7 linked regions of the Homo sapiens genome follow. The protein of the gene in region 1 purifies or fractionates together with the protein of each later gene. This does not show direct contact. Each region holds a gene or a part of one and is shown in the gene's direction. Other genes may lie near its edges.

Region 1 (3,500 bases):
GGACAATACATCATATTAAATAACAGATCGGGGAGTTGACCCTAAAGTGGGCATAGGAAGAAGGTGTGCCTCACCTAGCTCTTTCTGGGCAAGACTTTATCATTATTTTTAGATGAACTTCCTTATTATGGGTGCTCAGTTTTTTTTCATCAGTTTTTTTCATAGACTATACCATCAAATACATAAGAGTAAATTAGCAATCAAATTGATCCATATTTAACGTCATTATTTCCCTAATGAATTGAGCTTATTTATTCAGCTTTATTTAGCCTTTTCCCCCGTTAAGTTTTCTCATTTAATCCTTGAAGGCCTTTAGAAATATAAAAAACAGAATGTAATTGTATAAAGACACAACTAATGGGGTATTGAGAATGTGCAGGGTCCTTTGGAATTGATTACATATTTGATTATTTTGAAATATTTTTCAACAATGGTCCATATATTTTTGTTTTCATTTTAGAACAAAATCCAGTCTCATAGCAGAGGAGAATATAATGTTTACAGCACCTTCCAGAGCCATGAACCAGAGTTTGACTACTTGAAAAGTTTAGAAATAGAAGAAAAGATCAACAAAATTAGGTGGTTACCCCAGAAAAATGCTGCTCAGTTTTTATTGTCTACCAATGGTAAGTATACATATTTTCTTTCCATGTGCCCACTGTGTGTACCTGTTGCACATATCCTGTAGCCTAGGAGAGGAATCATTTAACAGAGATACTTGTAAAAAGGACTTTTGTTTTTCTATACAGAATGTAAACTCTACTTTTTTACTGTCACTTGCAGTTTTTAGATTCTCTGAAAGATTCTCTGATAGCAATTTTTTGTTTACTACACCTCCAATTTGTAGTGAAAAGAATGGGCTGCTATACCATTGGATTTAGGTCAGGTAATATTTCTGTCATTTCTCAGTCTCGTAATCTTGGGCAGGTTACTAACACTGAATTGAATTTTCCTCAGCAGCAAACTAGAGATAGCAATTTTTTATTATAGTATTATTATGAATATTAAATAACTTCACATACATCATGAGTGCAAGTGCTCAATAAATGTTAATTTATTCCTCCTTTTTAAGTGTTTGTAAACTACACAGAGTATCTCAAACTGCAGATACAAAATACTCAAAGGATGGTCTCCATTCCAGGATACGCTATAGGAGAGCACTTTCTTACTTGATCACCATTAGCATATTGCCTTCTTCCCAGCAATCCACATGGCTGGAAGGAGATTCCTCTCCTACTGTTTACTTGCCAAGGGAACATTTTTTGTTGTTTTTTGAGACAATGTCTGTCGCCCAGGCTGAAGTGCATTGGTGTAATCACAGCTCACTGCAGCCTCGACCTCCCTACCTCAGTCTCCTGAGTAGCTGGGACCACAGGTGAGTGCCACCACACCCGGCTAATTTTTTAAAAACATTTTTGTAGAGACTGGGTCTCCCTATGTTGCTCAGGCTGGTCTTGAATTCCTGGGCTCAAGCAGTCTGCCCCGCTCAGTCTCCCAAAGTGCTGGGATTACACGTGTGAGCCACTATGCCTGGCCCAGGAAAAGTTGAGTGAGGATTAAAAGTTAGTAATGACAGGCCGGGCGTGGTGGCTCACGCCTGTAATCCCAGCACTTTAGGAGGCTGAGGCGGGTGGATCACGAGGTCAGGAGATTGAGACCATCCTGGCTAACATGGTGAAACCGTGTCTCTACTAAAAATACAAAAAAATTATCCGGGTGTGGTGGCGGGTGCCTGTAGTTCCAGCTACTGGGGCGGGGGTGCTGAGGCAGGAGAATGGGGTGAACCTGGGAGGCAGAGCTTGCAGTGAGCCGAGATCGCGCCATTGCACTCCAGCCTGGGCAACAGAGCGAGACTCGTCTCAAAAAAAAAAAAAAAAAGTTAGTAATGACTCTACCAGAATTTGAAATCCTTTATGATGAGTTGGGTGCTTTCTCTTTGTTCTTATGAAAAACTTTTTCCTGTGAATTGTTTGGACTTTGTTGGGGTCTTGAGTCTAAAGGGAATCATTAGAGTGACTGAGGAGATACTTTAGTTTCTGGGTAGCCGTAGTCTATAAAAATTTGTGATTAAAACTTTTTTGAGGTTGGTGCTAGGGTGAGGGGAACCTCTTATTTTCTCATCCCCTCACTATTAATTTAAAAAGCAAATTCTAACACCTAGACCATAAACATTTGCAGAATATATACTTAAATGACTTCAGGATGAAATGGGGGAAGAAATTCAGCACTTCCTCCATCTAATTGATGCCCCTCGTCCACAGTATTAGTTCTTAGAAATGCTGTTCACAAATGCCTGATGGCCATCAGCGTTGGCCGCCTCCTGGGTGCCCGTTTTTCTGATCATGAAAGCTTTCCCCAGCCAGTCCATTGAGATGCGTACCCTCTGCCTTCTCTGTTTTCACAATAGACTGCATTCCCCTCTCTTGTCCTTATTAGAAGAAAAATAAAGAGAAGTAACTATTTAAAGCCTGTAAATCACAGCACTATGGGTGGAGGGAACAGTTTATTCCTGTCATATGCTAGCTTCTAGTCTTGGGTCAGTTTTAATTTATATGGTAAACTAAGTTATTTCAAATAGCTTCAAATATTTTAGACACTGTTCTTTGGCATCAGATGATACATAATTAAACCATTTATATAATTTCTACTTTTAGAAGTAAATGTTCCTAGGGAAATGTGTTGTTAACATTTTATATATTGGAATATTTTTATGTCAGTTTATTTCTTATAGGGCTACATCAGCTTTCTTATAAAGAGAACTTTTTAAATGTAGGCTGAGTTCAAGAGAATAGTATAGTGAAGCCCTGCATGCTCATCATCCACTTCTGACACTCCTCAGTTCATGGCTAATTTGTGTCTCGGATCCTTCCCCTTCCCCTCCTCCTCAGTGTTATTTCGAAGCAAATCCGATTACAACGTCTATGGATTAAATCTTGTTTAAAGACATTAGAGAATGCATTGTAGATTTTTGTCTTTTGTTTCTTAATACTAAGTAAAATACAGCTAACTGGGGGCTGCATTTTTTAATGCTAAAATAAGTGCTTAATAATAGAGTCCAATGTGGAAGGATAAAGCAGATTATGAGAATCATATGAACTGTTGTGTCTGGGTAGATGGGAAAAGGATGGGAGGAGTAGGACTTGAACTATATCTGAAAAACTATTTGGAAAGAAGGAGACTTAGAGAAAAATGTCAACATCTGTTGATTCTGAGTGATATCTTTTATATTATTTTGTGTATTTTTCTCTGTGAGTTTTTTCTGTGAGCATAGTAACACCCCCCCCCCCCAATATAATGGGTCTATATAAAAACTATATCTGTGGGAGAATGATGGAAAATAGTACCAAACTTTCCAGGTTTGATTAACCAAAATTAATCTTATAAAAATATTTGCATTGGCTTTCCATGATCATTATATGAACTGGGTTTCCCAGATCATTTTTACTTAAAGGACGTCATAGTCACCTTATAACTTGAGTTAATTTAATGTTCCTTCAAGC
Region 2 (3,500 bases), on another chromosome or scaffold:
AAATTAGCCAGGCATGGTGGCATGTGCCTGTAATCCCAGCTACTCGGGAGGCTGAGGCAGGATAATTGCTTGAACCCAGGATACGGAGGTTGCAGTGAGCCAAGATTGCACCACTGCACTCCAGCCTGGGCGACAGAGCAAGACTCCGCCTGGGAAAAAAAAAAATGCAGATTCCAGTTCAGTAGGTCTGGGATAGGGCCGAGATTTTGCTTTTTTTTTGAGATGGAGTTTCGCTCTTGTTGCCCAGGCTGGAGTGCAATGGTGTGCTCTTGGCTCACTACAAGCTCTGCCTCCCAGGTTCAAGCAATTCTCCTGCCTCAGCCTCCCAAGTAGCTGGAATTACAAGCATACACCACACCCGGCTAATTTTGTATTTTTTTTTTTTTTTTTTTGTTAGTAGAGACAGGGTTTCTCCATGTTGGTCAGGCTGGTCTCGAACTCCCGACCTCAGGTGATCAGCTGGCCTGGACCTCCCAACGTGCTGGGATTACACACGTGAGTCACCATGCCCGGCCAAATTTTGCTATTCTAATAAACTTCCAAATGTTGCTGACACTGCCAGTCCCTAGAACACACTTTAAGTAGCTGTAGTTTTTTTGTTTTTGTTTTTGTTTTTTTGTTTTGAGTCAGGGTCTTGCTGTGTTGCTCAGGCTGGAGTGTGTGGCATGAACTTGGTTTACTGTAGCTTGGACCTCCCAGGCTCATGTGATCCTCCCACCTCAGCCTCCCAAGGAATGAGAACACAGACAGGTGTATACTACCATGCCTGGTTAATTTTTAAATTTTTTTATAGAGACAGTGTCTGGCTATGTTGTCAGGGCTGGTATTGGACTCCTGGGCTCAACCAGTCCTCCCACCATGGCCTCCCAAAGTGCTAGGATTACAGGCATGAGCCACCGAGCCTGGCCCTGAAAATTTAAATTAAGGTCTTAATCCTAGGTGCATATGAAAGTCATTGCAGTGCTTTTTATGTTTATTTTTATTTATTTATTTTTTTTGAGATGAAGTTGCACTCTGTTGCCCAGGCTGGAGTGCAGTGGTGCAATCTCGGCTCACTGCAACCTCTGTCTCCCAGGTCCAAGTGATTCTCCTGCCTCAGCCTCCCTAGTAGCTGGGATTATAGGCGCCCGCCACCCTGTCCCGCTAATTTTTGTATTTTTAGTAGAGACGGGGTTTCACCATCTTGGCCAAGCTGGTCTTGAACTCCTGACCTTGTGATCCACCCGCCTTGGCTTCCCAAATTGCTGGGATTACAGGCATGAGCCACTGCGCCTGGCCAGAGTGCTTTTTATTTTTTATTTTTTTATTTTTGAGATAGGGTCTCACTCTGTCACCCAAGCCAGAGTGTGGTAGCACAATCATAGCTCATATAACCTTGAACTGCTGGGCTCAAGTGATCGTCCCACCTCAGCCTCCTGAGTAGCTGGGACTACAAATGAGTGCCACCACACCCAGCTGGTATTTTTTTTCTTTCTTTTTTTTTTTTCTTTTTGCTGTTCTTGATCTCCCGGGCTCAAGTGATCCTCCCACTCTGACTTCCCAAAGTGGATAAGAAGCATGAGCCGCTGTGCCCAGCCTTCAGTGGGGTGCTCTATTTATTTATTTATTTTTGAGACGGAGCCTTGCTGTGTCATCCAGACTGGAGTGCAGTGTGGCGCAATCTCGGCTGACTGTAAACTCCACCTCCTGGGTTCAAGCGATTCTCCTGCCTCAGCCTCCCGAGTAACTGGGACTACAGGCGCCTGCCACCACGCCCAGCTAATTTTTATACTTTTAGTAGAGATGGGGTTTCACAATGTTGGCCAGGATAGTCTCGATCTCTTGACCTCGTGATCTGCCCACCTCGGCCTCCCAAAGTGCTGGGATTACAGGCGTGAGCCACCCTGCCAGGCTACTTTTGACACCCCCAAAATCCAGCCAGGTGCAGTGGCTCACCTCTGTAATTCCAGCACTTTGGGAGGCCGAGGTGGGAGGATTGCTTGAGCCCAGGAGTTTGAGATCAGCCTGGAAAATAGAGGGAAACCCAGCCTCTATAAAAATTGTAAAAATTAGTTGAGTGTGGTGGCGCACACCTGTAATCCCAGCTACTCAGGAGGCAGTGGTGGGAGGATTGCTTGAGTTGGGAGGTCAAGTCTGCAGTGAGCCATGATCATACCACTGTACTCCAGCCTGGGCAACAGAGTGAGATCCTGTCTCAAAACAAAAAATCTTAACTACTAATAGCCCACTGTTGTCCAGAGGTCTCAGTGATTACATAACAGTCAATTAACTTATTTTTTTATGTGAGCCAAAGATTTATGTCTTCATTTCTTGCATTTGAAGTACTCTTGGATGACATCCTTGGCCTGAGACTCCTTGCCATAGTCCTTAACTACTACACAACTGCAACCAACCACTTTACAGGGTTTCCCTTCTCTCAATTTTACAGAGCGCTACCCATTCCCCTAGTTTCTTGTTGTCATCAACCTTAATTAAGTTGATTTGGTGCTCAGCACAAAGGGACTCCACCAGCTTGACATACATAGGCTTATCACAGTTGGATCAAGCACACAAAGATGGGCTTGGCGCTTGTCTAAGGCTTTGGCAGCTTCACAGATTCCACGTGCTAGGCCATCGTGGATGAGGGCGGTCTTCAGCACCTCTTGTAAAGCAGTATTAACATCCATTACACCTCCAGCAGCAATGCCTCCCTCGGCCATGGCAGTGGGTTATGGGTGAAGCTGAATCTTGAACATACCCAAGCCTCCGCCTCCGCGCAACTCGGCAGTGGCAGGGAAAGGGTGATTAACATATTTTTTAATGTTATATATATATATAATACTATAATCTTACAATAAGCTGAAGAAAAGAAAATGTTATTAAGAAAATCAGGAAAACACATTGAATTTACTATTCATTAGGTGGAAGTGGATCATCATAAAGGTCTTCATTCTCATCGTCTTCACATTGAGTAAGCTGAGGAGGAGGAGGAAGAGGAGGGGTTGGTCCTGCTGTCTTAGGGGTGGCAGAGGCAGAAGAGGTGGTGGAGGAGGTAGATGGAGAGGCAGGCACATTCAGCTGTAACTTTTTTTTCTTTCACTCTGTCACCCAGGCTGGAGTGCAGTGGTGGGATCTCAGCTCACTGCAAGCTCCGCCTCCCGGGTTCACACCATTCTCCTGCCTCAGCCTCCTGAGTAGCTGGGACTACAGGTGCCTGCCACCACGCCTGGCTATTTTTTTTGTATTTTTAGTAGAGATGGGGTTTCACCGTGTTAACCAGGATGGTCTCGATCTCCTGACCTCGTGATCCACCCGCCTCACCCTCCCAAAGTGCTGGGATTACAGGCGTGAGCCACCGTGCCCGACCTTTTTTCTTTTTACTAGCCCCTCAGTGTTTAAAGTTGTAACTTTTATTTAATTAAATTTAATTAATTAATTTTTTTGAGACAGAGTCTCACTCGGTCACCCAGGCTGGAGTGCAGTGGCGCGATCTCAGCTTACTGTAACATTGCCTCCCAGGT
Region 3 (3,500 bases), on another chromosome or scaffold:
AGCAACAAAGACAAAAAAAACCTTTAACCATGACCACCCCCATATCCCACACATAAAAGAAACTGTATCCAGTTAAAATGGTGAGAATTGGTTTTTTCCCCCTTGATACTGCCCCATCTCTTTGCCTGGGTATAATCATGAAGTGTACATTCCTGGTATTACATGTTATCGTGATTTGGTCACACCATGAGTGAGTTATGACTAAAATTTTGTGTTTTGGGGGCATTTGAACATTTATTCTATAAGAATACTATCAGTTTTTGGCTGGGTATGATAGCTCGTGCCTGTAATCCCAGAACTTTGGGAAGCTAAGGTGGAAGGATCATTTGAGGCCAAGAGTTCGAGACCAACCTGGCCAACAAAACAAGACCCTATCTGTACAAAAAATTAAAAAAATAAATAGTGGGCATAGTAGCACACAGCACACGCCTGGCACTAGTGACTCCAGAGGCTGAGAAGAGATGATCACTGGAGCCCAGGAGTTTGAGGATGCAATGAGCTATTATCCTACTACAGCACTCCAGCCTGGGTGACAGAAACCTAATTGCTAAACACACACACACACACACACACACACACACACACACACACACACACACACACACACACACCCCTATGTGTTTTTGTTGTGTATGTTGGCTGTGTACTGGTAGTTTTGAAGAAAGATATATTCACTTTAATATCTTAACTACTCTAAAGTTTTGACATGATTGCTTAAAGACTTGTAATGTTTTAGAGTCTATTTTCTTTTTCTTTTTTTTTGAGATGGAGTCTCACTCTTGTCATCCAGCCTGGAGTGCAATGGCGCGATCTTGGCTCACTGCAACCTCCACCTCCTGGGTTCAAGCGATTCTCTTTCCTCAGCCTCCTGAGTAGCTAGGATTACAAGTGCCCGCCACCAGGCCTGGCTAATTTTTGTATTTTTAGTAGAGGCGGGGTTTCTCCATGTTGGCCAGGCTGGTCTCGAACTCCCAATCTCAGGTGATCCGCCTGCCTTGGCCCCAAAGTGCTGGGATTACAGGCGTGAGCCACGCGCCTGGCCTGGAGTCTATTTTAAATTAATTAGTATCCTTTCGTGTAAACTGAGAGTTCATAATCAGATTAGATTGATTTTAAAGCTATATATTATAATGTCAGTAACTGAAATTCTGCTGCCAAGTTTTTTGTTGTTTTTTGTTTATACAATTCAGTGACTTTGAGTATATTTACAGAGTTGTGCAGCCATCACCAAAATTAGGTTTTAGAAATTTTTACCACTCGGCCGGGCGCAGTGGCTCAGGCCTGTAATCTCAGTACTTTGGGAGGCCAAGGCAGATGGATCACTTGAAGTTGGGAGTTCAAGACTAGCCTGGCCAACATGGTAAAATCCTGTCTCTACTAATAATACAAAAATACCCAGGCGTGGTGGTGCATGCCTGTAATCCCAGCTACTTGGGAGACTGAGGCAGGAGAATCACTTGAACTTGGGAGGTGGAGTTTCCCATGAGCCGAGATTGCACCACTGCATTCCAGCCTGGGCAACAGAGTGAGACCTTGCATTTTTTTTTGAGACGGAGTCTCGCTCTGTTGCCCAGGCTGGAGTACAGTGGCGCGATCTCGGCTCACTGCAAGCTCCGCCTCCCAGGTTCACGCCATTCTCCTGCCTCAGCCTCCCGAGTAGCTGGGACTACAGGTGCCCGCCACCACGCCCGGCTAATGTTTTGTATTTTTAGTAGAGACGGGGTTTCACCGTGTTAGCCAGGATGGTCTCGATCTCCTGACCTTGCAATCCGCCCGCCTCAGCCTCCTAAAGTGCTGGGATTACAGGCGTGAGCCACCGCGCCTGGCCGAGACTCCATCTTAAAAAAAAAAAAAGGAAATTTTTATCACCCTATAAAGAAATTTTGGGGCTGGGCATGGTGGCTTACGCCTGTAATCCCAGTACTTTGGGAGGCCAAGGCAGATGGAGCGCATGAGCCTAGGAGTTTGAAATCAGCCTGGGCAGCATAACAGCACCCTGTCTCTGAAAAAAAAAAAAAAAAAAAAAGAAAAAAAAAGAAACAGAGTTTTGGCCAATTTAGTTACTTCTGATTCTCACCCTCAGCCCCAGGCAACTAACCTATTTCTCATCTCTATAGATTTGGCTTTTCTAGGCCCAGTGTGGCTCATACCTGTGATCCCAACACTTTGGGAGGCCGAGGCAGGAGGATCACTTGAGACTAGCCTGGGCAACATAGTGAGACCCGTGTCTCTACGAAAAATAGAAAAAAATTATCCGTCTTGGTGGTGTGCGGCTGTAGTCTCAGCTGCTTGGAAGGCTGAGGTTGGAGGATCGCTTGAGTCTCCAAGGTTGAGTTTGCCGTGATCCTGCCACTGCACTTCAACCTGCGCAACAGAATGAGAACCTGTCTCTAAAAAAAAAAAAAAAAAAAGCTTTTTCTGGACATTCCATATAAATGGAATCATATAGTGTATGACCTTTTATATTTGGTGGCTTTCACTTTTTTTTTTTTTTTTTTTTTTGAGATGGAGTCTCACTCTATCACCTAGGCTGGAGTGCAGTGGTGTGATCTCTGCTCACTGCAACCTCTGCCTCCTGGGTTCAAGTAATTTTCCTGCCTCACCCTCCTGAGTAGCTGGGACCACAGGTGTGCGCCACCACACCTGGCTAATTTTTGTATTTTTAGTAGAGATGGGGTTTTGCCATGTTAGCCAGGCTGGTCTCAAACTCCTGACCTCAAGTGATCCGCCTGCCTTGGCCTCTCAAAGTGCTGGGATTACAGGCGTGAGCCACAGCATAAAGTTTTTGAAGATCATTTATGTTGTAACATGTATCAGTACTTCATTTCTTTTTAGGGCCAAATAGTTATTCTGTTTTATGGCTACAGTGCATTTTGTTTATCCATTTACCGGTTGATGTTCATTTGAGTTATTCATTCAGATGTTCAACTGAATTGTGAATAAAGCATTTTTTGTTTCTTTTTTTTTTTTTTTTGGAGATAGGGTCTCACTCCGTTGCCCATGCTGTAGTGCAGTGGCGTGAAAAAGCTCGCTGCAGCTTCACCCTCCTGGGCTGAAGTAATTCTTCTGCCTCAGTCTCTCATGTAGCTGGGACCACAGGCACGTGCCACCATTCCCAGCTAATTTTTTGATTTGTTGCAGAGATGGGGGTCTCGTGATTTTGTCCCGGTTGGTTTTAAACTCCTGGCCTCAAGCAATTCTTCTGCCTCTGCCTCCCAAAGTGTTAGGATTATAGGCATGAGCCACCTCCTCGCCTGGCCTGAATAAACCTTTTAGAAGGCTGGGTGTGGGGGCTCATGCCTATAATCCTAGCACTGTGGGAGGCTGAGGCAGGTGGATCGCTGGAGTCCAGGAATTCCAGACCGGCCTGGGCAACGTGATGAAACCTGTTCTCTACAAAAAATGAGCCGATGCTGGGCATGGTGGCCTGTATTCCCAGCACTTTGGGAGGCCGAGCTGGGTGGATCATGAAGTCAAGAGTTTAAGACCAGTCTGGCCAA
Region 4 (3,500 bases), on another chromosome or scaffold:
GACTTGTTTCTTTCTTCCCTGTCACCCTTTTGACTAAATTCATTTCGATGAAGATGAAATGTAGGTGCTTTATGAAGGTATATGCTATATGCCTTTTTTTTTTTTTTTTTTGGTCTTTTGATCTTTCATTAAAACTGCTAAGATTTCTTCTCCCCAGAGCTTTCTTGCTAATGTGCCTATATCCTCTTACTTTAGCTATATTCCTTATACAAAGGAGCATCAGTGTGTATATATCATTTATTTCTATTTTTAGTGGGAAGATCCTGGCTGTAAGGATGAATAATGTTAAGTTTAAACCTGAAAAATCTCAGTAGTTCAAAGATACCAAAATCACTACTATGTGAAATGTGTGTTTTGAAAGCAGTTTGCCAGCCGTGTGAGACCTGCGGTGTGGCCTGCAGTGCCTGAGTATGATGCCCCACTTGTCTTTTTGTATTTTTTCTAGTGCTACTGTCTAAGAGCTGGAGCTACAGAGCTTGAAATTACCACTGAAAACACTGAAATGTTGGGCCCTTCACTGCTTCCTCATAAGGATACCAGAGGCAACCTGGCATATTAAGCTTGACACTTGGCAGATCACTGTGTAAATTGTTTTTCAGGAATACAAGTTGGGACACTTCTGTTCATTTGACCTTTGAGTTGACCCTTAAATTTTATTATTGTTTTTTTTCCCCTCAGTCTTCAGCTCACTGCTTCACTTCTAGTTCCACCCACTTACCAAATATGATTGACTCATGCAGGTGAATTAAACCATTATTGCACACTTTTTCCCTCTCCTCTCTCTCAGTATTACTCTTAACTTGAATATTTTAACCTGAACAATTTAAATAGGCTTGACATTCCCATGCTGCTTTCAAGCCTTTTTTTTTTTTTTTTTGAGACAGAGTTTCACTCTTGTTCCCTGGCTGGAGTGCAATGGCACAGTCTCGGCTCACTGCAACCTCCACCTCCCGGGTTCAAGTGATCCTCTTGCCTCAGCCTCCCAAGTAGCTGGGATTACAGGCTCCTGCCACCATGCCCAGCTAATTTTTTTTTTTTTTTTTTTTTTTTGTATTTTTAGTAGAGACGGAGTTTTACCTTGTTGGCCAGGCTAGTCTCGAACTCGTGACCTCAGGTGATCCGTCTGCCTCAGCATCCCAAAGTGCTGGGATTACAGGCGTTAGCCACCATGCAGCCCCTTTCAAGCCTTTTAACATCATGTCACCTTCACAATGAGCAGTTGCTCCCATTACCCAGTGAACTCACCTTCTGATGGGACAGTTACCCTAGTTGGGGCTTCTCAGCCTTGAGAGATGTGCAGAGCAGGGACCTGTCCAGGGCAGAGCAGCCAGACAGCGTGGAAATAATCCAAACAGAGAAAGCATTCAAGAACTTGGCCTCTGGTTGACTTAACACACTACTTCAAGTATATGGCAGGTCTGTATAATAAACTCCTGCCTGTCTAGTCTTCAGCCTCATAGAAAGCAAGAAAGCAGGTGGCGTATGTTGCAGAACAATTCTTGGGTAGAACAAGGGGACATTTGATGGTTTGGGTTTTTCAGTAAGAAAGATGAAGTCCTGGAGTATAGGGTAGAGTGGTACAGTGGAAAATATTTCAGCTTGGGGGTTAGAAAATAAACATGCCGATTCTTGCTTTGCCATAAATGATGTCACCTAACTTGTGTGACCCTGTTTTCTCATCCCTAAAATGATTTGATAAGTTTAAGATTAGGCTATTTTTAAATGTATGGAAGAAATTGGGTGTTACCCTTCTTGAAAGACATTTTCCCTGCAAGTATGGCAGGCTGTATCTTTCAGTGTAACAAAGTTCTATTAAAGGTCATAACTGCTGCCCTGTAACTTTTGCCTTATTCTAGAAACTTCTACTCCTTGAATGACATGTGTTGGTACATGTTTCTTCTCTTTCAGATAGAATGGTTAATTTTGACTTGTTGCTTCTGCACACGTGTCCTGGAAATAAAAGTTTCTTCCCACTACTTATTGCTGATTTATTTCATAGGAAGTCTTAAGGAAAGAGGCAAAAAACGGGCTCATGGGTCACTTGAAGTTGGAAAATTCTGTGGAGATTGACAAAGGAGACTCACTTTTGAGCATCTGTTCTCAGTGTAACCTTCAAATCTGTGGAAACATAACTAGGCACATTTTATGATTATTTAGAATGTTAATAAATTGCTCTGAGTTTCCTCAAGTCCATTTTGTAAGATCAGACCATAGGTGGGTGTTGTTTCTTTTAAGTGTGTGTACTGTGTCCAATGTTACATTTTTAGAAGTGTTCATGCTTTTTGTAAAGTGATTCGTTTTAAGCACATTAAAGGTCGTTTGAGTATTGTCATGTATTTTACACCTGCTTCAGCTTAGTTTTGTTTGAAAGTCTCTACAGCAACTCTTACATAATATCTGTTGCTGAAGAGAAAGAACAATCCTCTCTCCAACTCGTTAGCTAGCTTTGCCACCTTCTACCTTTAGTAAATTTTTTCCTGTTATAATCTGTCCCTTTACATTCCAGTGCCACCACTCCCTGATGGTCTAGACCTAGGGAGACTGACAGTCGCCTCAGGTCGCATAGGTGCTAGGCGGAAGGGTAATTTTTTTAGAAATTAAAATTGAAATTTTAAAAATATTTAATAATACACCCATTAAATGTTAACAACATTGTTATGAAAAATATCTTTGCAAGAAATACTCCTTTTCACAGTCTCTGTAGCAAGAGTTTTTACCTGAGTAAGGAGGAGGACAAGGACAGTCATTTTGTTCGGCACAACTCCTCCAAGGAGAGCCCCTGACACCCCTGTAGGCTCACTTCTGAGCTTGGGGCTTTCGCTAGAACCTCCCTATGCCTTAGCTTCCATCAGTCTCTTCCCACCTTTTTTTCCATACAACCCTAAGCTGAACTTGAGTGAAAGAGAAGACCAAGAGAAGTAATACTTTAAAAATCTTTTTGAAATTCATATGTAATGATTATGGAGTAAATGGAATCATTTGCTTTTAATTGCCACGTCTTGGCTCCCTCTTCCCAGCGCCTCCCCATGGTCTTTCCTTAGAGCCCAGGGGCATCAGAAAGAGGTTCTGCGGGGAGGATCCATCCCTGGCAGCCGCAGCCTCAGCTCCCGAGCTTTGGGGTTGTTAGGAGGCAGATGTCCTGAGCTTGCTGCCCTTGAGGCTTGAGGGAGTGGTGGGTTCTTCCTTAGGCAGCTCCCTTCTCTAGCCCCCATTCCTGTCCTACATCACAAGCTGCAAGGTCGGTAGACCCCAGGTACCTCCTTTGTGACCTCCACTGCTCTAGACCAAGGGTTCCCATCTGAACACTTGACTGTGGGGCAAGATATTTTGTTGTGGGGCTGCCCAGTGGTCCTCTACTTTGTAGGACATTCACCAGCATCCCTGGCCTTACCCCTGGATGCCAGTGGCCCACTGCCCCCACCAACTGTGACAACCAAAATGCATCCAGACATTGTCTGGACATTGTCTAATGTCTCCTGGAGGATCAAATCGCCCCCTGT
Region 5 (3,500 bases), on another chromosome or scaffold:
GGTGACACAAGCCAGGAAACAATCTCAGCAAGCTGGGTGGGACCGTCCACCGCCAGCAGCATGTGTTGGGGCCAGGCAGGCAAGTGGCAGTGTCCACTCCAGCGTTCTTTCCTGTTCTGTGGGCTCCCCACACACCAGGCCGTGGCCCCAGAGACTGTGCTTGCAACACTGGATTCCTGGCTTTTGAAGAAGGATCTGACCTGGAGGGCTTGGCCTGTGCAACTGCATCGGACTTATCTAGAATCTGAGGAGCCCCAGCTCACTCTGGCCTTCATTAAATAAACACTCAGTGGGAGAAGCAGCACGTGAAATGTCCGTGGAGGTCCCTGACCAGGGATGGGCTGCTGCTGCCTGAAATTGGGTTGTGATGGGGTGTAGTGGGTCAGCGTGTCTGGTTGTCCGGGGATAGCTTTTCTCTGTGTGGTGGTCCAGTTTGGATGGAAAAGGGTAGAAGGAGCTGAGACTTAACGTTTGCTGCCTGTGTGCCTAGCAGCGTGCCTGACTCTTCTCAAACTCACACACGTTCCTGGAGATCAGCAGTTTTCATCATACACATTTTCCCTCTCTAAATATAAAGGGAGGGAGGCACAATTTGAAACCAGGGTATTAATCTGTAAACAGAAGTTGTGAGGCTACTTCATCCTGGCAGGAGCTGGTGTTCTGTCTCCGCTAGACCCTCCTAGGGGTCTGAAAACTCCACCGAGGCAAACGGGAATGTTCTTATGCCCCAGTGTACTCACAGAGGGACACTTGGCCTGCCTAATAGCTGGGCCTGCAACCTATGCCAGTAATAATTACCTTCATTCCTTTGAATCTGCCCAGCGCTGGGGAGACAAGGGTGTGTAGAAGCAGACACATGTTGCCTCATGGAGATTTATGTTCCAGGGACATTGTGACTTGCCCTTTCCTGCCAGCCTACTAGTACTTTCCAGAGACAGGCTCTGCCATGCTGAGTCTCCCCACCTTGTGTTCTTGTGGAGAAAAATCCCTCCTAAGCAAGCTGGCGTGGAGAAAGGGGCTGAAGGACTTTGACCATCAGGCTTTGCTGGGGGAGGTGATGTTGGCAACTGTGGTAGGTGCAGAGTCAGGCTGTGCTGGGAGGCGATGTTGGGAACTGTGGTAGGTACAGTCTCTGCCCTTGGGCTGCTTTCCTGAGCAGTTGCCCTGGAGCCGCAGGGGGTCAGAGGGGAGGCCCTCCTGCCATCTGGAAGGTCAGAGAGGCCTGGCCCTCACACAGCTCTGCCGTGGCAGAGGTCAGAGTCCCACCGTGTGGGGGACCTGAGCTCTCCCTATGCCTCCCAGGAGCATCTGATGATGGAACTGCTGGGAGAGGGGAGGGGTGGCATTCCTGCAGATTGGGTCCTTAGGGTGTGTTGAGGCACGTTCCCTGGACAGACCTTTAGTTACTGTTGATGTGCTTACCTGGCTGGCAGCCACCTAGCAAGGGCTCTGAAGTAGGTGGGCTGTTCTCCCAGTCTTTGGGGTCTAGGGACAGTTCTAGTCTAGTGAAGGAGCCAGGCAGGGCACAGTAATGACTTTAGTAGCACAGCTTGCAGGACCCTGCATTGGGAACCCCACTGAACCCTTGGCCCATCCAACCTCCTGGTTTTTTTGTTTTGTTTTGTTTTTTGTTTTTGTTTTTGTTTTTCTTTTAGTCAGAGTCCCACTCTGTCGCCCAGGCTGGAGTACAGTGGCATGATCTCGGATCACTGCAATCTCAGCCTCCCAGGTTCAAGCAATTCTCCTGCCTTAGCTTCTGAGTAGCTGGGATTACAGGCATGCCCCACTATGTCCAGCTAATTTTCGTGTTTTTAGTAGAGATAGGGTTTTGCCGTGTTGGCCAGGCTGGTCTCGAACTCCTGGCCTCAAGTGATCTACCCACCTTGGCCTCCCAAAGTGCTGGGATTACAAGTGTGAGCCACCTCCTGGTTTTCTGGGAAATATTCCCAGAGTCTTGGGGACTTCTCCCAAGTCACAGGTCCCTGGCAGAACTGAGACTGAAACCTGGTTTTGCTTTCCCACCCAGCCACTGTCTCAAAGTGTGGCGTTTCTCTGCTTCTGCTCTGTGGCCACAGTTGTAACCCTCTGGCCAAGTGGCTCCAGCCGTCTCTGAAGAGATACAGAGCTGGGGCTCTGGCCCTTTTTTGTGTCCACTTTCACCCGGGTAACTTTTTCCCTGGTGAAACCTACCTCCCAAATGTTTCTTAGAGGCAGCCTGGAGGGAGACCCGCAGTGGCTGTGAGCCTGGGGAGGGCTGGGTGGTGCTGGAGAGAGGTCTTATCAGATCTGGAGGTGTGGTTTGCTGCCTGCAGCTATGGGAATGCCTTCTTCCACGTCAGGGTTGTTTCCTCTTCTTGGAGTGGTCTGGGCTGCCTCAAAATCCAGGAAAGTGCGCCGCAGGTATTCTACTCCTGCCCGCTGGGTGTGTCTGGAGATGGACCATGCGGAGACGCTGGCCCACGGTGGCAGTGTCTGCAATGCCGGGGAGAAGCAGCAAAGCCTGTGGCCAAGTCTCTCTAAGCTATGCCTTTTTAAAAGGCCATCCTTTCAGAAGAGGCTGGTTGAGATCTCTTTTTTATGTTTAATTCAAAGGGAAAGCTGCATAGGTGCCTTTGGGGTTAGGGGAATGATCTTGGAGTAGAGAGGGCAGACACAGATGAAGAACGTGCTTGATCACCTGTTCTATGTTGAGCACTCCACTAGGCTCTCGGCATATGTTGCACCTTAACATTCACAATGATGCTATGAGGCCTTATCCTGATGTTGCAGATGAGGGAATTGCAGCTCAGAGGGATGGAGAGACTGTCTTAGCAGGTGGTTGAACCCAGGTTGACTGGTCTTGAGAACTTATGTTCAGAACTCCACAGCTGTTGCTGTGGCGGGGAGATTCTGTGCAGGGCCATGGTTGCTGAGACCAAGGAAATGGCCAATAATAAAAAGGGCTGGGCCGAGGGCATTCCGTGGCTCAACTCTAGATGTTTGGGCTTCCTGGTGGCCACCCAGGCTGTGCAGCCTCAGGGTTCGGGCATGGGTCTGCTTCCCTAATGTCCAGGCTAGCACATCCTCAAAGACAGGACTCTCAGCACCATGATGCAGCCCGCTCTACGCTTGTCTCATTCTGAGAAAGGAGAAGCTGCCTAGAGATCAGTTTACTCATAATTTTTTAAATGGCTACCTGTCTTATTCTTTCTGAACAGTTCCTCTGATAAACAGTGTATTCTTTAACTTTCTACTTTTAATTAAAATATTTACAAAATACATAATGATATATGTTCACTATAAAAAAGAAAGTACTAGATGTACAACAGTGAAAATCACCCATAATGCCACCTCTCAGAGTTAATTCCAGTGCACATTTTGTTGTATATTCTTCCTGCATTTGCATATAAATGTACATGTGTATATTTGTGGCACATACCATGTGCATTGCCTTGTAAATGTCTTCTGTCTGTATCAGCACATATACATATGCATCAGCACTATTAGTGGCTGCATTGTGT
Region 6 (3,500 bases), on another chromosome or scaffold:
AGCGATCTGGAGCTCCTCCGCCTTCCGGATCTGCAGGTGTATTTTCTTTTAGGGACTTCGCTATCATTAGAAGTTAAAAAGAAATTTCTATTTTTATTCTGTTACCAGGGAATTAAACACCACTCAATCCATTTCAACAATAACATATTTAAGAAACATTATCAGCTTCCAAGAGACATTCTCACTGTTACTTCCATAGGGGAAGGAGAAAACTAGATATTGTGTCTTTGTGTTGTATGTTATAAAAGCTGGTGTGTATTGTTTAAAAATATTTTTTCTTATGAGTTGATGATTTTTGAAGTGTTTACCTCTAACTGTGATCACACATGCTCATTTATAGGACTGGTAGTCTGTAGAGGGACAAGATAACATTGCTATTAATAGTTTAGGTTTAAACACTGGAGTAGACAGACTTGGTTTGAATTTGGGCTTCATCCTAGACTGAGAAACCTTAGCTGAGTTATTTTACTTTATTTTCCCTCAACTGCGAATTATTGGGATTAAATGGTAAAGCAGTTAGTAGTGTGCCACACAATATTATATACCAAATAAATTGCGGGACCAGGCACAGTGGCTCATGCCTGTAACGCAACACTTTGGGAGGTTGAGGTGGGTGGATGATTTGGGCCCAGAAGTTTGAGACCAGCCTAGGCAACACAGTAAGACCCTGTCTCTACAAAAATTAAAAAAATTAGCCAGGCATAGTGATGCGTGCCTGTAGTCCATTTACTCAGGAGGCTGGGGCAGGATGATTGCTTGAGCCTAGGAAGTCAAGGCTGCCACGAGTTGTGATAGTACCACTGCACTCGAGCATAGGCAACAAAGTGAGACCCTGTCTAAGACATAAAATTAAATAAATAAATAAAGGCTGCTTTATGATTTTTTTTCTTTTGAGATACAGATTTTAGTTTTAGTAGTGTGTCATTTTTTAGGAACTTGCTTGATCCTCAAGTTGAGTTATTAGTTATACACTTCTTTAAAAAGGAAGACTAAAGAAGGGGGAAATGGGGAGTTGGTTGTTAAATGGATGTAGTTTCTGTTTTACAAGATGAAAACATTCTACAGATCCTGTTATACAACAGTGTGAATAGTGTTAAAACCACTGAATGTACACTTATCTAGAGTATAAATTTTTATTATGTGTTTTTTGTTAACCACAGTTATTATACTAATATTTTAAAAAGAGGAAGACTGAAGATCCTACCTTCCAGCTAAGCTACACTGTTATCCATGACATGCTGTAGAGCAAATTACTATAGCTCTTGATGTCACCTAGACTCCCCTTTTAAAACTGACAGATTCTGGGTAGCATTTGAGGTGAAGAGGTTGTTGCTTGTCCCATTCTATTTTAAGCAGTGCATGGGAATGGAAAATAGGTGATTTTTAGCAACTTTAGTTTACCTGGGGAGGAAGAATTTTATTTATCCCTTTTTTTTAAGTTTGGCAATTTCTATTCATTATTTTCTTTAAAAATGGTAATAATATAGCTTCTACTTAAGTCATTTAAAAACAATAGTTTTCTCTGCAATGTAGACTACATAAGAAAGACTTTTCATTCTGGTAGAGTGTTTTATCTGAGCCTTAGTTTATATTGCCTGATGAATGCCAGAATTCTTACTTGGTTTTCTTTTCTTTTCAGTCAGTACTGCTCCCCAGCCTAAACCAGTAAGTATAAGGTGTTTTTATATTTAATTTTGATCTATGGACTATGGGCATGGGTTCTTCTGTTGTGGATGGTAACAGTTTGTTTCAAGTTTGAGAACCAAAAGGAAAAAAAATTCCTGCGCTTCTATAATTTTCTCCAGTAAATTCCCATGCACCTTCATCACATTTGTACTGGTGAGGCCTCTAAAAAATTCGAGTTTGTCTGAATGTAAACCAACCCCACGGACTGCTCAGAAGACCACACTTTGTTATTTATTCTGTTTTTATTTGGGTTTATAAGAGTATCCCGCATCTTTTAATTTAATGAAAGACTTAAGTGCTATGTTAGGGAAAGATTTGTGAAATTTAATTAGGAAGTAATTAAAGTTAACAACTATCTCCAACTGGGGGTAATTAATTAGCCACCTGAAGGCTTTATCTGTTTGTAATCTCCGCCCAGGCTGACAAAATGTCAAAGAATAAGAAGAAGAAATTGAAGAAGAAGCAGAAGCGCCAGGCAGAATTACTAGAGAAGCGAATGCAGGAAATTGAGGAAATGGAGAAAGAGTCGGGCCCTGGGCAAAAAAGACCAAACAAGCAAGAAGAATCAGAGAGTCCTGTTGAAAGACCCTTGAAAGAGAACCCACCTAATAAAATGACCCAAGAAAAACTTGGTATAAATAGAACATCACGAAAATTACTGTACAACACACTTTAACGTTAATTTATCATTGCTATATAATACAGTGGTTTCATACATACAACACATCTCTGGGGGTATCTTTATAAGAATATGGATCTTGTCATAAATGTTAGGCAGGTAATATTTAAATGTAATTTGTAACTTTTCTCAGGAAATGGAACATAGATTTCATTTAACAATTGGGTAAAAGTAAGATCTTGGCCCTTCCGGAAATAGGTTTTAGATGTTTAGTCATGTTTTTATGTCACTCAGTATAAGTTCTAGAAAATGTTTTAATCTTGTGAGAAATGTTTCTGTTCTTTCACTCACACACATATGCATATATCTTTTTTTGTTCGTTTGTTCCTTAGAAGAGTCAAGTACCATTGGCCAGGATCAAACGCTTATGGAACGTGATACAGAGGGTGGTGCAGCAGAAATTAATTGCAATGGAGTGATTGAAGTCATTAATTATACTCAGAACAGTAATAATGAAACATTGAGACATAAAGAGGATCTACATAATGCTAATGACTGTGATGTCCAAAATTTGAATCAGGAATCTAGTTTCCTAAGCTCCCAAAATGGAGACAGCAGCACATCTCAAGAAACAGACTCTTGTACACCTATAACATCTGAGGTGTCAGACACCATGGTGTGCCAGTCTTCCTCAACTGTAGGTCAGTCATTCAGTGAACAACACATTAGCCAACTTCAAGAAAGCATTCGGGCAGAGATACCCTGTGAAGATGAACAAGAGCAAGAACATAACGGACCACTGGACAACAAAGGTACCTATGCAGCTATACTTCCTCAACACTCCTTCCCTGCACAACACATTCACAGATTTCTAGACTAAAAGTATGATTGTTTTTGTAACTATAGCTTTACAACAGGTGTGTCTAAGTTACGTTTAAATTGTAATCTGTAGCTAACTTTATCCATCATGTACTGAGTACACAGCACTTCATTTGTTGCTGTGAGGGCAGAGGTTTTTAATTCTGGAAACTCAAGGCGTTGCTGTGCTCTTTTTGTCTCAGAAAATGTAAGTTGTCACTTGGGTATTGCTGACTGTATTACTCTTACCTTGGAGAGCTTTATTACTCATTGAGTATTTCTCTGTTCATTGAACAGTCTTATTGATGATGCCTGTTGTCTGTAGGAAAATCCACGG
Region 7 (3,500 bases), on another chromosome or scaffold:
GTGGCTACCCTTCTGTGTTTTCACAACTTAGATTAGCTTTGCCTGTCCTGAAGGTTCAGATCAATAGAATCCTACGGTACATATTTTTGTGTGTGTCTTGCTGCTTTTATTCAGCATAATGTTTTGAAATTTATCCGTGTTGCATAAATCATTGAGGTATGTTGCTGAGTTGCATTCCTTTGTCAGAATACACCAGATCGTATACATTCAACTTGTTTTAAGTGTTTTTTTTGTGTGTGTGTGTTTTTTTTTTGAGACGGAGTCTCGCTCTGTTGTTCAGGCTGTAGTGCAGTGGTGCAATCTCTGCTCACTGCAACCTCCGCCTTCCAGGTTCAAGCAATTCTCCTGCCTCAGCCTCCCGAGTAGCTGGGACTACAGGCACGTGCCACCACACCTGACTAATCTTTTGTATTTTTAGTAGAGATGGGGTTTCATCGTGTTGGCCAGGATGGTCTCAATCTCCTGACCTGGTGATCCGCCTGCCTCAGCCTCCCAAAGTGCTGGGATTACAGGCATGAGCCACTGTGCCCGGGCTGTTTAAGTCCTAAAAGAATGCTTGTGGCTGGGTGTGATGGCTCACTCCTGTAATCCTAGCACTTTGGGAGGCCGAGGTGGGCAAATCACTTGATGTCAGGAGTTCGAGACCAGCCTGGCCAACATGGCGAAACCCCGGCTCTATTAAAAATACAAAAAACTAGCTGGGCGTGGTGGTGCACGCCTATAATCCCAGCTACTCGGGAAGTTGAGGGAAGATGAGGCAGGAGAATCGCTTGAACCTAGGAGGTGGAGGTTGCAGTGAGCCGAGATTGCACCACTGCACTCCAGCCTGGGCGACAGTGAGACTCCATCTAAAAAAAAAAAGAATGCTTACAACTGAGAGTGATGAAACTAGGCCAAGGACCGCCCCCCACCTCCCCAGGAGCCTCTCTGGAGGCTCACACCTGCTGGTCCTGTCCTTGAATAGACAGAAAAAAGGTTCCCCCTGTTCTCTGAATTTCTTTTCGGTGTGATAGATCTCATTGCCTGTGCATTTAACACTCCTAAATTTTATAAAACGATTATTTCTTTGGCATTTATCCAAGAGAAATGAAAAACCAATGTTCATGCAAAAACATGTTCTAGAATGTCCATAGCAGCTTTATGTGTAATAACTCCAAACTGGAAACAAGGAAAAAGTTCCCTTCAGCTGGGGTGTGGTGACACTCTGCTCCGTCTGTGCCTCCAGATCCTACTCTGTTGGGAACTGTTGACACACAAGAGTTTGCAAGGATCTCAAGAGAATTATGCTGAAGGAGAAAAGCCAACCTCAGAAGGGTGCTTGCTGTGGGATCCCATTTATGCCACATTGTTGGGCTGACCCAGAGCTGAAGGGTGGCATGGCCAGAAAAGGACCTACACAGGGAGGCCAGGGTGTCTGGTCCTGGCAGGAGAGCAGCCGTGGAACAGGGTAGGAACACAGACGTGGAGCTCAGTGGAGGAGGGAAGGAACGCTTAGCTGTGGGGCTTAGAGACTTGGCAAAACAAGAGGAAGCTTTACCAGCAAGTGTGCAGAAATAGTGCGGGAGAAAGTTGGTGGAGCGTTCCACCTTCTTAGGATGCAGTTTAATAATGTTTATCAAGCCTCTTAAAAATGTACCTGCACATCACCCTAGTAAGTAAAGAGCCGAGGCTAAGGAAGCCAAATGCTAGAAATACCAAAACACCTAAAGTTAGAAACTGGTATCATTTGTGATTGGGAAAATTGTCAGTAGTGTGAAACTTCCCTCCCTTGTGCAGAGAGGAAAGTGCTGGGAGAAACGACTGGAAAGGAGGAACCCAGGTGGTGACTGTGTTTTTCTGAGTGGATGGGATCCTGGGAGAAAATTCGTTTTATGGTTTTTGATGCTCTTCCAGATTGTCTATGGTGAGCTGTGGAAATAAGCAACCAGGTGAGAACAGGCAGAGGCTGTTTATCCAGAGCTTCCCCTAGCAAGGGTGCGGCCCTCCTCTCTCGTGATTGGCAGAAACTCATAGGCAGGTGAGGGAACAGGAGAGCTTTACAGTGGAATCCAGGGAAGCTCAGGGATGGCTGATGGAGGCTGCTGACTTGGGGGACTGGGGTGGCCAGTTAGAAGTGGGGCTCCTGGCCTGGCACGGTGGCTGACGCCTGTAGTCCCAGCACTTTGGGAGGCCAAGGTGAGTGGATCACCCGAGGTCAGGAGTTTTGAGACCAGCCTGACCAACATGGTAAGTCTCTACTGAAAATATAAAAATTAGCCAGGCCTGGTGGTACACCCTTGTAATCCCAGCTACTCGGGAGGCTGAGGCAGGAGAATCCCTTGAACCTGGGAGGCGGAGGTTGCGGTGAGCTGAGATTGCGCCACTGCACTCCAGCCTGGGCGACACAACAACAACAACAAAGAAGTGGGGCTCCTGTGAGATGGCCTAGAACATGTTTGGCTTTCTCTGGTTGGTCCTAAATTGGAAGCAGGGACAAAAACTGGAGAGGTTGTCGGTTACTAATCATGTCCTGGCCATTTTGGGCTGCTTGCTATGGAAATGATTGTTTAGCTTCCTGGATTGTTCCTAGAGAAAGCAGCCAGGCTTCCTGCAGGTCTGACTAGGGCAACCTGGCTTCCTGGCCCGTTACTGAAGGTAAAGGGCTGGTTTCCGACTGATGGCGGCAGATAATGGCTGAGAGTTCTGTTTCTGTATGTGGTTCCGCCATTGTTTGTTGGTATATTCCCTCGCTCAGAGCAGATGTTATTAGGGTGATTTCTGACGGTCACGTATTGCTAGTGCTGCCCTTAGGACCGCTGACAGCACCAGGCCAAGCACTGAATTCATCCTCTTAAGATCCCCAGTGGGAGGCTTCTAGTATCCATATCTGGCTTTCAGAAAAGGGCGGGAGGGTCTGTCGTTGGGTTTGGACTCAGGACCTGGCATTTCTAAGGACTCAGAGGAAAGGAAAGTGGGACCCAGAGGGTCCTAGGAGCTTGGGACAGCTTCTTGAACTGGTTCCCAGTGTGGTTGTGGGTCTTCTTGGCCTGTCCCATTGGTATTCTTGTTCCTTCTGTGAGTTGCCCTGATTGCCCTGCTCAGTCGTGCTGACCTCCTGTAGGCCCCACATTATGGGGGTTGTGCTGCTGGGTTTCCAGAGTCAGGGGAGGCAGCCAGGGGTTCTTCTGTCTATAAACTTGGGCTTAATGCATGCTGTTCAAGAGGATTTGGTTTGGGTCCTAAATTAATCCATTGCTATGCAGGCTTGGGATTGAGATAGGTTGAAAGAGAAACTAAAAACCTAAAAGGTATATTGACTTCCCACAGAGGAACCCGTGGGACTTAATCTTTTCCCCAACGCAGGGTGTCCTTTGTAGTTTGACATAGCCTTATGTTAATTCTCGATATACTTAGCAATTTTAAGCCAGTGATTTAAACAATGGATTGGGATGGAAAAGCTCTGAAAAGTTAAATTTGTGGCTGACACAAAGAACTCGAATATTTACCAAAAGTAATAGAAA

Evidence for each region.
Region 2: the proteins of PPP2R2A (region 1) and ECSIT purify together in Homo sapiens (affinity purification with mass spectrometry; 2 studies listed by BioGRID and IntAct, with this or other methods). This does not show direct contact.
Region 3: the proteins of PPP2R2A (region 1) and RPS6KB1 purify together in Homo sapiens (affinity purification with western blotting; 2 studies listed by BioGRID). This does not show direct contact.
Region 4: the proteins of PPP2R2A (region 1) and PPP2R5C fractionate together in Homo sapiens (co-fractionation; 2 studies listed by BioGRID). This does not show direct contact.
Region 5: the proteins of PPP2R2A (region 1) and KSR1 purify together in Homo sapiens (co-immunoprecipitation; 2 studies listed by IntAct). This does not show direct contact.
Region 6: the proteins of PPP2R2A (region 1) and SRPK1 fractionate together in Homo sapiens (co-fractionation; one large-scale study listed by BioGRID). This does not show direct contact.
Region 7: the proteins of PPP2R2A (region 1) and CDCA4 purify together in Homo sapiens (affinity purification with mass spectrometry; 4 studies listed by BioGRID and IntAct, with this or other methods). This does not show direct contact.

The regions. Positions count from the first base shown.
Region 1 is NC_000008.11:26,354,008-26,357,507, forward strand, and holds part of PPP2R2A (serine/threonine-protein phosphatase 2A 55 kDa regulatory subunit B alpha isoform), read left to right. Parts: intron 1-460; coding exon 461-626; intron 627-3,500. UniProt on the Homo sapiens protein: Substrate-recognition subunit of protein phosphatase 2A (PP2A) that plays a key role in cell cycle by controlling mitosis entry and exit. Involved in chromosome clustering during late mitosis by mediating dephosphorylation of MKI67.
Region 2 is NC_000019.10:11,522,635-11,526,134, reverse strand, and holds part of ECSIT (evolutionarily conserved signaling intermediate in Toll pathway, mitochondrial isoform 1 precursor), read left to right. Parts: intron 1-2,281; exon of another isoform or gene 2,282-2,779; intron 2,780-3,500.
Region 3 is NC_000017.11:59,899,621-59,903,120, forward strand, and holds part of RPS6KB1 (ribosomal protein S6 kinase beta-1), read left to right. Parts: intron 1-3,500. UniProt on the Homo sapiens protein: Serine/threonine-protein kinase that acts downstream of mTOR signaling in response to growth factors and nutrients to promote cell proliferation, cell growth and cell cycle progression.
Region 4 is NC_000014.9:101,764,709-101,768,208, forward strand, and holds part of PPP2R5C (serine/threonine-protein phosphatase 2A 56 kDa regulatory subunit gamma isoform), read left to right. Parts: intron 1-445; exon of another isoform or gene 446-2,341; intron 2,342-3,500.
Region 5 is NC_000017.11:27,459,448-27,462,947, forward strand, and holds part of KSR1 (kinase suppressor of Ras 1), read left to right. Parts: intron 1-3,500.
Region 6 is NC_000006.12:35,869,099-35,872,598, reverse strand, and holds part of SRPK1 (SRSF protein kinase 1), read left to right. Parts: coding exon 1-36; intron 37-1,639; coding exon 1,640-1,665; intron 1,666-2,104; coding exon 2,105-2,318; intron 2,319-2,697; coding exon 2,698-3,117; intron 3,118-3,488; coding exon 3,489-3,500. UniProt on the Homo sapiens protein: Serine/arginine-rich protein-specific kinase which specifically phosphorylates its substrates at serine residues located in regions rich in arginine/serine dipeptides, known as RS domains and is involved in the phosphorylation of SR splicing factors and the regulation of splicing.
Region 7 is NC_000014.9:105,014,584-105,018,083, reverse strand, and holds part of CDCA4 (cell division cycle-associated protein 4), read left to right. Parts: intron 1-3,500. UniProt on the Homo sapiens protein: May participate in the regulation of cell proliferation through the E2F/RB pathway. May be involved in molecular regulation of hematopoietic stem cells and progenitor cell lineage commitment and differentiation.